2 linked regions of the Homo sapiens genome follow. The protein of the gene in region 2 interacts with the protein of the main gene of each other region in a biochemical or structural test. Each region holds a gene or a part of one and is shown on either strand. Other genes may lie near its edges.

Region 1 (7,300 bases), on a different chromosome or scaffold from region 2:
AGTATTTTTATACAGTCCAGCTTTCCCTCCATAAACAGTTCACCTAAGTCAATTAAAAATTGTTTCCTTTTCTGTGTCATCTTTAAAAGAAAATCAAACACAACCAAGATACAGCATCATGTCCCATTTTCTGTTAAGTTTCATATAGTTTTAGTAACCCTTCCTTCCACCGCTATTGCCAAAAATGCTATATAGTACATGCATTAGAATGTGTTAAAGCAGATCGGGCATGGTGGCTCACGCCTGTAATCCCAGCGCTTTGGGAAGCTGAGGTGGGCAGATCGCCTGAGGTCAGGAGTTCAAGACCAGCCTGGCCAACATGGTGAAACCACTTCTCTACTAAAAATAGAAAAATTAGCCTGGCATGGTGGTGGACACCTGTGATCCCAACTACTTGAGAGGCTGAGGCAGCAGGATCACTTGAATCCGGTAGGCGGAGGTTGCAGTGAGCCAAGATTGCACCTCTGCACTCCAGCCTGAGCAACAGAGAGAGACTCCATCTCAGAAAAAAAACAAAAAACAAAACAAAACAAAACAAAAAAAAACAAAAGAGTGAGTTAAAGCATGTGAAAATAAACTTGGCACATTTCTAAGAATTTTATCACCTGTCCAGAAAGCTCCAGATATAATTGGTCACTATAGGTACAAAAAACAGCAGGACAACTTAAGATTATAACCTGAAAATGGAATTTTTAATGGAGAAAAATCTGTGTCGACTTATACACATAGTGGCCACATACCTACGGGATACAGTCCCCTATTAAAGCGCTGGCCTGTAAATGCTGCTGCACCACAGATTAAAAATGAGTCACAGGACCCTGAATCCTTGGACCCAACTCTCTCCTTCTCTGGTTCTTGACCCAGTGAAGGAGCTGATGATGCTATCATCCTCTGCCCTGCAAGTGTGAGATTTTAATTGCAGCACCCAGGACTTTGTTCCCACTCACTAAGCACCTTACTCAAACAAGTCAGAGAAGAAACACAATGTATTTTTTCTCACCTGTCCAGAACAAGATCTGGAGCAAAGATGAGCTTGCCGGGGTGGTCAATTGAGCGCCACATCAGCCCCATCATTAACACCTCCATCCAACAGCTCTCCAAGAGCCGCACTTGGTCGAACAGGCTGAGCTCCACAAAGCCTGGGGAAAGCAAGAGGCGGTGAGACACCCCCACCCCTCCTCCTCAGCTCCCTGTGTGTGTAGAGACAGAATGGCAAGTGTTAAAACACTAAGAAAACACAAACCATTAGGGAGTTGATATTTTATAGATGTGATTAACTGCTCATTAAAGGAAGAAAACTTTGAAGTTAAGCTGCGCAACTTAGTTTCCAGTCTTGGACCCCTTCTAGAGACAAATATACTTCATTTAGAGTTTGTCAAGCACTACGACCTCGGCTCAGAACTGATCTTTGTTAGCTGTGTCCTGATAATTCCTCTGCACTACTGAGAATGTTGATGCTTGGCTGCCAGTCAGAAGACCTGCCTGTCTGACCCAATCCTTGACTGGGATCAGAAGGGGTGGGGGATGGGGTAGGTGGGGGATGGGGTAGGTGGAGGTTGGGGTTGGAGGCTTGCAGAGAGCAGTGCCAGCCCTCACAGAAAACCAAGGCCTCAACTGCAAGGATTTCTCTGATTGATTAAAATTTCCTATCCAGTGTTAAGATCCTTCTTCTGGGTAGAAGCACTGTTTCTGGGTGATTCTATCCTAAACAGCAAATATAGCCAAGCACACCTGTAATCCCAGCACTTTGGGAGGTCAAGGTGGGTGGATTGCCTGCACCCAGGAGTTTGAGACCAGCCTGGCCAACATGGAGAAACCCCATCTCTACAGAAAATTATCTGGTCATGGTGGCAGGTGCCTGTAGTCCCAGATACTCTGGAGGCTGAAGTGGGATGATCGCCTGAGCCCAGGAGGTCGAGGCTGTAGTGAGCTGAGATCACGCCACTGCACTCCAGCCTGGGCAACAGAGCGAGACCCTGTCTCAAAAATAAATAAATAAATAAATAAATAAAGAGCAAATATAATAACGAAGCAGGTCCTGACAACCTAATAACCCATGTTGGTCACAGTACTGTTTGCAAACAGGTAATCTCTGGGGAGGGAAGCACTTCAAAAGCAAAGCAGAGAACACCGGGGCTTCCTTCACAAGCCATGATAAAAAGAGAGGGCCATGTAATATAAATATGATAACAAAAGACACCGCCTTGGAGTGAAATGGACTCTGGTTCGAACCCCAGCTCAGCCTCTTTCTAGCTGTTCACTTAATCTCCCATTAAGTCTTTGTTTTTCTTATAGGAAAATGGGGGTAACAATGCCTATCTCTGAGAATGTCTTATAGGCAGGATCTCTTATCATTCTTGTTTTACAGATGAGGAAACTACAGCAGAGAGAACACACATGGTTCAAGTCTTTGAACAATTATAACGCAAATCTGCCTCAAGGAGAATGTAATGGTGTTATGAATGTAAAGATGGATAAATACTTTCTAAATCCACATGCTTTGCTCAGTTTAGGTTCCTAATGTGTATATACCTTCCCAGTCTCACCCATAGTGATTGACAATAAGCCTACCCAAGAGAGATCACGGTTCTTAATCTTGTAGATATTCAACAAGATCAAGGCTAGATGATATTTTAATATATATTTTTTGGTTTGGACAATGACTATGCCAGCTAAGAGAGGAGAAAAAAAATCACGCCTTCAGATTATGTCTACGTTTCCTGAAAACTTTTCAAAACACCAGGCTTGAATAAGGAATAATGCAGTTTAAGAGTTCAGATTTCTTATGGCACAAAGAAGGTGCACAGCTTTCAGCAATAATTAATTTCACCACTGCTCTCCATGTGTGGTCCTGCAAAATCGTGTTTGGAATACATTTAAAGCAAAAACTAGAGGAAAGTGCATCAGTATTGCCTCCCCTGGGAAAAAGCAGAGAAAATAAAATAATTCTGGCAAAGGTGAAGATGCTAGACAAAACAAAATACAACTAGAAACCAAAAATCCTCAGGAAGCTCAGAAGAAATGGGCCCAGGCCAACAAAAGTCCCCAAATGATACTGTCACCATAGGCCTCAGTTCCCCAGGCTCTTTACCCAAAACTTCTCTTCCCCCAGCTTCTCACCCCTCCTCATCTTTACAGCTTGCCCAGTGCAGTCGCTGCCCTCCAGGCCATGGGAATGCCCCCAGTGGCTCAGAACTTATAAGAGACTTCATTTCTTCAAGGACTGTAAAGAACAGCATGGAGAAGCTGTCACAGGGGGATCGTGGGGTGTTGCCACTCTAGGTTAGAATCCTAGATTCACTCCTCCACAGAAACACCAAGTCAAATGATAATTAGCTGGTAATTTTAGCATCATACAGCACTTCAGATATATATTACAAATGGGCTTGAGAGAAGTGATCACTTTGGAGGATGGAAAACGCAGGTTCCAAGTGACAACTCATGAGTAACTAAGCTCATTTTTAACTTGATGGCATTCCAGGTTTATGGGCCCATTGATGATTCGTGTAACTTCAACCACTGATTTACTCTGTTTGTCCATACATATTCATTTATGTACATAATATTGATTCTCTACTGGAACAATAATTTACAAAATTCTATTTAGCATCTGACAAACCTTTCACTTTCAAACTAGTCATACTGTACTCTACCCCACCCCTCCTTTCAAGGTGAGGAATCCACAGCCAAGAAATGGGTCAATGTGGAGTCTATCATTTTAACCACGTTCCAGGTTCCAGGACTCTAGGATTCTTGCCCAAATGACCCCAAGCCCAATTCCAGAGCCTAGGTAGGTTCCCTGGGTCCATCCTCCCAGACCACCTCTAGGCATGAGAGGTGGCCAACAGGTGAGTGTCTGTAGCAGATGTGGACACACAGGATAGGGTTTGTGCAAGGTGGTATGGGATGCATCTAGCCATGGGAAAAGAAGGCAGTCAAGAATAGAAATGGCTGGGCCACGCACAACTCTTTCTGCACTACCATGTTGGGTACAGAACTCAGAAGAGTCTCAGAATTCTAAATCAGAACACGGCCTTGTTGAAGGTAGGTATGCCAAGACAGAAGGAAGGAACATATTGCACTTAAAAGTTACAAATCCAGCTGAGGACCTGTTAAATATCTAGGCACAGCTCATGGACCTCTACTTTGTACTCTTGCCCCTTAAATATTAGCGGCCGGCCTTTCTACAAGTACATGGAAAACTGATAGCCAGAAAGCCCTACCGGGAATCTTCTTGGCCCAGCTGATCATGTGTACCAACTCCTTGTCGGCCAACTTGGTCAGGGACATCATCATGGAGGCCTCGGTGAAGGGCGCACTGGGGCGGCTGATCAGCACATGGGGCGGCTCAGCCTCCAGGAGGGTGAGCACTAGCTGCTCGGGGCTCAGGGCGTCCAGCAGCAGCTCCCGCACTCGGGGCGCGTGGCCGCCACTTCTCTTGGCCTTGCCGGCACAGTGCAGCTGCTCGTCGGCACTTCTCTGTCTCCGCACAAGGCGGTACCCACATCTCTCTCTCCGGGAGCCTGAAGAGGAAAGCAGAGTCATTCGAATTGCCAGGGTAAAACCGCAGTCAAGCAAAAGCAGCTTGACTTTTATTTTCTGGAGCCTGTGGGGCACGTACCAAAGATTACTATGGTCGTGACCGTACTAGCAAAACCAACGACATAACTTTTCAGAAACTTTTTAGGTCTCCATTTCCAGGTCATCTATAGATACTAACACCGTTTCTCTATAAAGAGTGCTCATAAACCTGTTTCCAAACCATGAAATTAGGAATTTTCTTCAGGTAGAAAAATGGGGATATTTCCAAAGGTATCAAATAATATACTTTTATTATAACACATTCTTAAAATGTTTATATGCATGTGTGCATATGTATATATTTCCTTATACTTACACAAAACAAGTATATTTCAAATAACAAATTAAGTGAAAAAATCTGAAAAATATAGAAGAGAATAAATTTTGGCATAAACTCTTTCAGTCTTTTTAATGCTTTTATTTTTCTTTTTTCTTTTTTTTTTTTTTTTGAGACGGAGCCTTGCTCTGTGGCCTAGACTGGAGTGCAGTGGTGTGATCTCGGCTCACTGCAAGCTCCGCCTACCGGGTTCACGCCATTCTCCTGCCTCAGCCTCCCGAGTAGCTAGGACTATGGGTGCCTGCCACCATATTTTTCCACGTTTTATACACAAAATTATTTATTTATTTTTGAGACGGAGTCTCACTCTGTCACCCAGGCTGCAGTTCAGTGGCACATTCTTGGCTCACTGCAACTTCAGCCTCCCGGGTTCAAGCGATTCTCCTGCCTTAGCCTCCCAAGTAGCTGGGATTACAGGAGCCCGCCACCATGCCTGGCTAATTTTTATATTTTTAGTAGAGATGTGATTTCACCATGTTGGCCAGGCTGCTCTCAAATTCCTGATTCTCAAGTGATCTGCCCATCTTGGCCTCCCAAAGTGCTGGGATTACAGGCGTGAGCCACTGCACCCAGCCTTTATACACAAAATTAGATTGTAGTATCTACACTATTTTAATTGTATTTTTGAGACAGAGTCCTGCTCTGTTGCCCAAGCTGGAGTGTAATGATGCAATCATAGCTCACTGCAGCCTTCATCTCCTGGACTCAAGCAATCCTCCTGCCTCAGCCTCCTGAGTAGCTGGGACTACAGGAATATGCCACCATGCCCAGCTAACTTTTAAATTTTTTTGTAGAACTAGGGTCTTACTATGTTACCCAGTCCTCAATAGTTTGACTGTTTTCTCAGAACCCATTGGGCATTAAAAATCATTTTTAATGTTTGCTAATCTAACTAAACCATCTCGCTTTACTTTGTATGTTTTAATTACTAGCAAAGTTGATTTATATGCTTGTTCTTTGGATTTACTTTTTTTTTTTTTTTTTTAAGAGACAAGGTCTCTGTCACCCAGGCTGAAGTATGGTGGTACAGTCATGATCACAGCTCACTGCAGCCTCAACCTCCCAGGCTCAAGAGATCCTCCCACCTCAGCCTCCTGGATAGCTGGGACTACAAGTGTGCACCACCACATCTGACTAATTTTTGTATTTTTTGTAAAGACAGGGTCTCACCATGTTGCCCAGGCTGGTCTCGAATTCCTGGGCTCAAGTGATCCTCCTGCCTTGGCCTCTGAAAGTGCTGGGATTACAGGCATAAGCCACCACATCCGGCCCAAGAATTAAGTTTTAGTGATATAGAAACAAGGTGGAACCAAAATAACAAACAATAACATGCAAAATCAGAGAGGAATGATTTTGGTTAGAATTTCTAAGATTCTTTTTTGGGAAGATAGAAGCTTAAATTCTCAAATTAATCAAGAACACGTTACAAAACATAAACGTCATTAAAGGAATTGAAACATGGCCAAACATGGTGGCTCACACTTGTAATCCCAGAACTTTAGGAGGCCAAAGGTGGTTTCGGCGGGTGGGGCGGGAGGGGACGGATCACTTGAGGCCAGGAGTTCAAGACCAACCTGGGCAGCATGGTGAAACCCCATCTCTACTAATAATACAAAAATTAGCTGGGCATGGTGGCAAATGCCTGTAATCCTAGCTGTTTAGGAAGGTGAGGCAGGAGAATCACTTGAACCTGGGAGGCAGAGGCTGCAGTGAGCCAAGATCACACCACTGCACTCCAGCCTGGGTGACACAGCGAGACTCTGTCTCAAAAGATAAAAGGGAATTGAAACAGAATGTATGACTTTTAAACTAGCAAAAGAAGAAAAAGAAAACATAAAAATGTGATCAACTCCTAAAAGGGAAGAAGTAGAAAATACATAATAAAATTTTTTAAATCAAAAAATAAGATGATAGAAATGAACCCAAATATCAGTTATCACAATAAACAAAAAATACCAAATTGACCATTTAAGAGTGACTCTGAAATTATACATATTTTTAAATCTAGACATAGATTAGGTGTAAGAGATATACCTAACATATAGAAAAACAAAGTAGACAGATAGAAAAATATTTAACAGGCAAAATTAACCAAATAAATTGACATTACTCTATTGATACCAGACAAATAAACTTTAAGGCAAAAATTATTATTATAGATAAGGAGACTCATCGCTAGAATATTTTAAAAAGATAAATAATTCTAAACTCATATACTTCAAAACAACAAAGGCCAGGTGCGCTGGCTCATGCCTGTAATCCCAGCAATTTGGGAGGCCAAGGTGGGCGGATCACCTGAGGTCAGGAGTTTGAGACCAGCCTGGCCAAAATGGAAAAACCCCATCTCTACTACAAATACAAAAATTACCCAGGCATGGTGGT
Region 2 (3,723 bases):
GTCTGATGAATTGGGTCTAGATTGGTTAGGGAGAAAAATGTATCTTCATGAGGATAGAGGATTCAGAGAATGAGTGGCTGAAAGGCTTGAAATCATGATTTCACAATGTTTGGGGGGTGAGACCCAGGCATCAGCATTTTGAAGCCACCATAGGTAATTCCAAATTGCAGCCAAGGCTAAGTTGGAGACAACTGAAGGGAAGACTAACAGGATAACAGATAACAAGATACAAATTGGGGTAGTCTGAGTTAAGAATCTTGACCACTGAATTCTCAAACAACGAGTCTAAGGCCATGATAGTGATTCGCTAAAGTGAACTGGAAATGAGGGTAACTGGAATTGATAAAATTGAGCTTGAGGAACTACAGGGCCATCTTGATTTGAAGGTATGTCTTGTATGTCCTCCTAGAAATCCTCTATGCACAAACTTACCTAATTTTACATTTCATAGTTCATTGGAGATGTCTCATTTCTCCAGTGATAGAACACTGATCCGCTTATGACATTTAATTATAGGTCATGGTATTGATCCTACTTCTTGGAAGATTTTTCTTCACTTCAAAAACTATGTGACAATGAGAATAATTGCACTTTACATTTTAATTAGACAGATGCTTGGGGAATTGGTTAATTAGAAAGCCCTTTTTGTTGCAACCCTTACTGAAAACTTTCAATAAAGATATTCATCTAATTAAATAGTAAGTACAAATTCCATTAAGTAAACAATTAGGCATTTTTCAATGGTTTGGGATCTATTGTAGGTAATTATTCTGAACAAGTTGTCACTGCCTGAGAGACTGAATACCTGGTACATCTCTCAGAAATGTTAACTTTTTTTTCCCATTATGGTATTTTCTTTAACTTGCTGTTTCTAAGAATGGGATCCTATTAATGTATACCAGTTACTAAGGTTTTGTTGAACTTTTTTATATAGCCTCCCCACTCCCCACTCCTTTTGTGACATCTAGTTATGGGACCCAAAAAAGACATTTTCCCAGGTTTCAGAAGAGGAATATTGGTGTTTCTCTAGAGCAGTTGGTTTATCATACAGCAGAACACTGAACACAGAACTGATTGTGTTGGATGCTAAGAACCTAGCCCAGAGCCCAACTTTATCAACTGTAGTCTTACAGCATCTACTTTGTTTTAAGAACATTTTGGGCCAGACGTGGTGGCTCCTGCCTGTAATCCCAGCACTTTGGGAGGCTGAGGCCGGTGGATCACCTGAGGTCAGAAGTTCAAGACCAGCCTGGCCAACATGGTGAAACCCCGTCTCTACTAAAAATACAAAAATTAGCCGGGTGTGGTGGTGGGTGCCTGTTAATCCCAGGTACTTGGGAGGCTGAGGCAGAATTGCTTGAACCCGGGAGGCGGAGGTTGCAGTGAACCAAGATCATGCCACTACACTCCAGCCTGGGCGACAGAGCGAGAGTCCGTCTCTCAAAAAAAAAAAAAAAAAAAGCATCTTGGAGCCAGATGGTGTATAAATACAGCATTCTTTTCGAAATCTTTCAAGATCTTCTCAGGGGTATCTTGAAGGTCTCTTTCACCAGCACACCTGACTGTGGCAGCCCTTTGGATTCTTTATACTTTTCTGGTATAAAGCCTTCAAATAGTTCCAGTTGGCTGGGCATGGTGGCTCACACCTGTAATCCCAGCACTTTGGGAGGCCGAGGCGGGTGGATCACTTGAGGTAAGGATGGCAAAACCCCATCTCTACTAAAAATACAAAAGTTAGCTGGGCATAATGGCATGCCCAGTAGTCCCAGCTACTTGGCAGGCTGAGGTATGATAATCGCTTGAACTTGGGAGGCGGAGGTTGCAGTGAGCTGAGATGGCACCACTGCACTCCAACCTGGGTGATGGAGTGAGACGTCTCAAAAAAAAAAAAAAAAGTTCCAGTAGGTGAACTGAGTTTAGTGACACAGGCCAAAGTCAGTAAAACCTGTTTCTCAAAAGACTTGCTTATTAAAAAGCAAAACATAACTTCATCCATTATTTAAATATCCAGGTATTTGTAGAAGGCCAGAAGCACTAAAGGATACAATTCTCTCATACTGGGTCCTTATTTTATCCAGTAGAAGGCAAAACATAGTATTCCAGAAACAAAAGTAGTTTTTTTTTAAAATAAAAGAGAACAGACATAGATGCTTCCCTAACTCCAACTATGAATGTTATTGTCAGTTCTGCTATTACTAGCTTTTGACTCCAAGCAGTAAATATGAGATTTTGGACATAGGTATGGGCAGACTGCATGACTAAAACACCAAAAGCAATGGCAACAAAAGGCAAAATTGACAAGTGGGATCTAATTAAACTAAAGAGTTTCTGCACAGCAAAAGAAACTATTATCAGAGTGCACAGGCAATCTACAGAATGGGAGAAAATTTCTGTAATCTATCCATCTGACAAAGGGCTAATATCCAGAATCTACAAAGAACTTAAACAAATTTACAAGAAAAAACCCCATCAAAAAGTGGGTGAAGGATATGAACAGACACTTCTCAAAAGAAGACATTTATGCAGCCAACAAACATGAAAAAACGCTCATTATCACTGCTCATTAGAGAAATGCAAATCAAAACCACAATGAGATACCATCTCATTGCCAGTTAGAATGGCAATCATTAAAAAGTCAGGAAACAACAGATGCTGGAGAGGATATGGAGAACTAGGAACACTTTTACACTGTTGGTGGGAGTGTAAACTAGTTCAACCATTGTGGAAGACAGTGTGGTGATTCCGCAAGGATCTAGGACCAGAAATACCATTTGACCCAGCAATCCCATTACTGGGTATATACCCAAAGGATTATAAATCATTCTACTATAAAGACACATACACAAGTATGTTTACTGTGGCACTGTTCACAATAGAAAAGACTTGGAACCAACCCAAATGCCCATGAATGATAGACTGGATAAAGAAAATGTGGCACATATACACCATGGAATACTATGTGGCCATAAAAAAGCATGAGTTCATGTCCTTTGCAGGGACATGGCTGAAGCTGGAAATCATCTCAGCAAGAACAGAAAACTAACACAAGAACAGAAAACCAAACACTGCATGTTCTTACTCGTAAGTGGGAGGTAAACAATGAGAACACATGGACACAGGGAGGGGAACATCACACACTGGGGCCTGTTGTGGGTGGGGGACTAGGGGAGGGATAGCACTAGGAGAAATACCTAATGTAGATAGGTTGATGGGTGCAGCAAACCACCATGGCACGTGTATACCTATGTAACCTGCATGTTCTACACATGTACCCCAAAACTATTATTAAAAAAAAAAAAGATTTCATATTTGCTGATATCTCAAGGAAGCAGTATGCTGGAAAAATAGAGGTAAAGTGAATAGTAACATAAAGGAAGCTACAACTCACCAAGTATCAACAGAAATGACCAACACTCCTTGGGTGCCAGAAACCAGCTTAGCCAGGGTGCATACTGTACCACTGGAGAAGAGGTAAGCTGGGTTAACTTCGAAGAAACCCTGGCCAACTTAAATTATAGTTTAATCCTGTTTTACTTGGACCACAACACTTAAATCTAGATAAAAACCAATTATTCCTCCCTGTTTCAGTTGCCAAGCAAGGAAAACAGCTCCTCTGCCCAAGCTTTCTAGGTCATATTCTTCATATCTTTGTATCCCAACTTTCTGGATCTGAATTTTATAGCTAACTATAGGGCATTGCCTCTCTACCATCTCCCGTCCCCT

What was found.
Region 1: the proteins of DNTTIP2 (region 2) and ESR2 form a complex in vitro, tested with the Homo sapiens proteins (one study listed by BioGRID).

Annotation. Positions count from the first base shown.
Region 1 is NC_000014.9:64,256,226-64,263,525, forward strand, and holds part of ESR2 (estrogen receptor beta), read right to left. Parts: intron 4,524-7,300; coding exon 4,224-4,523; intron 1,191-4,223; exon of another isoform or gene 1,140-1,190; coding exon 1,001-1,139; intron 1-1,000.
Region 2 is NC_000001.11:93,865,702-93,869,424, forward strand, and holds the end of DNTTIP2 (deoxynucleotidyltransferase terminal-interacting protein 2), read right to left. Parts: 3' UTR 583-3,723; downstream 1-582. UniProt on the Homo sapiens protein: Regulates the transcriptional activity of DNTT and ESR1. May function as a chromatin remodeling protein. Part of the small subunit (SSU) processome, first precursor of the small eukaryotic ribosomal subunit.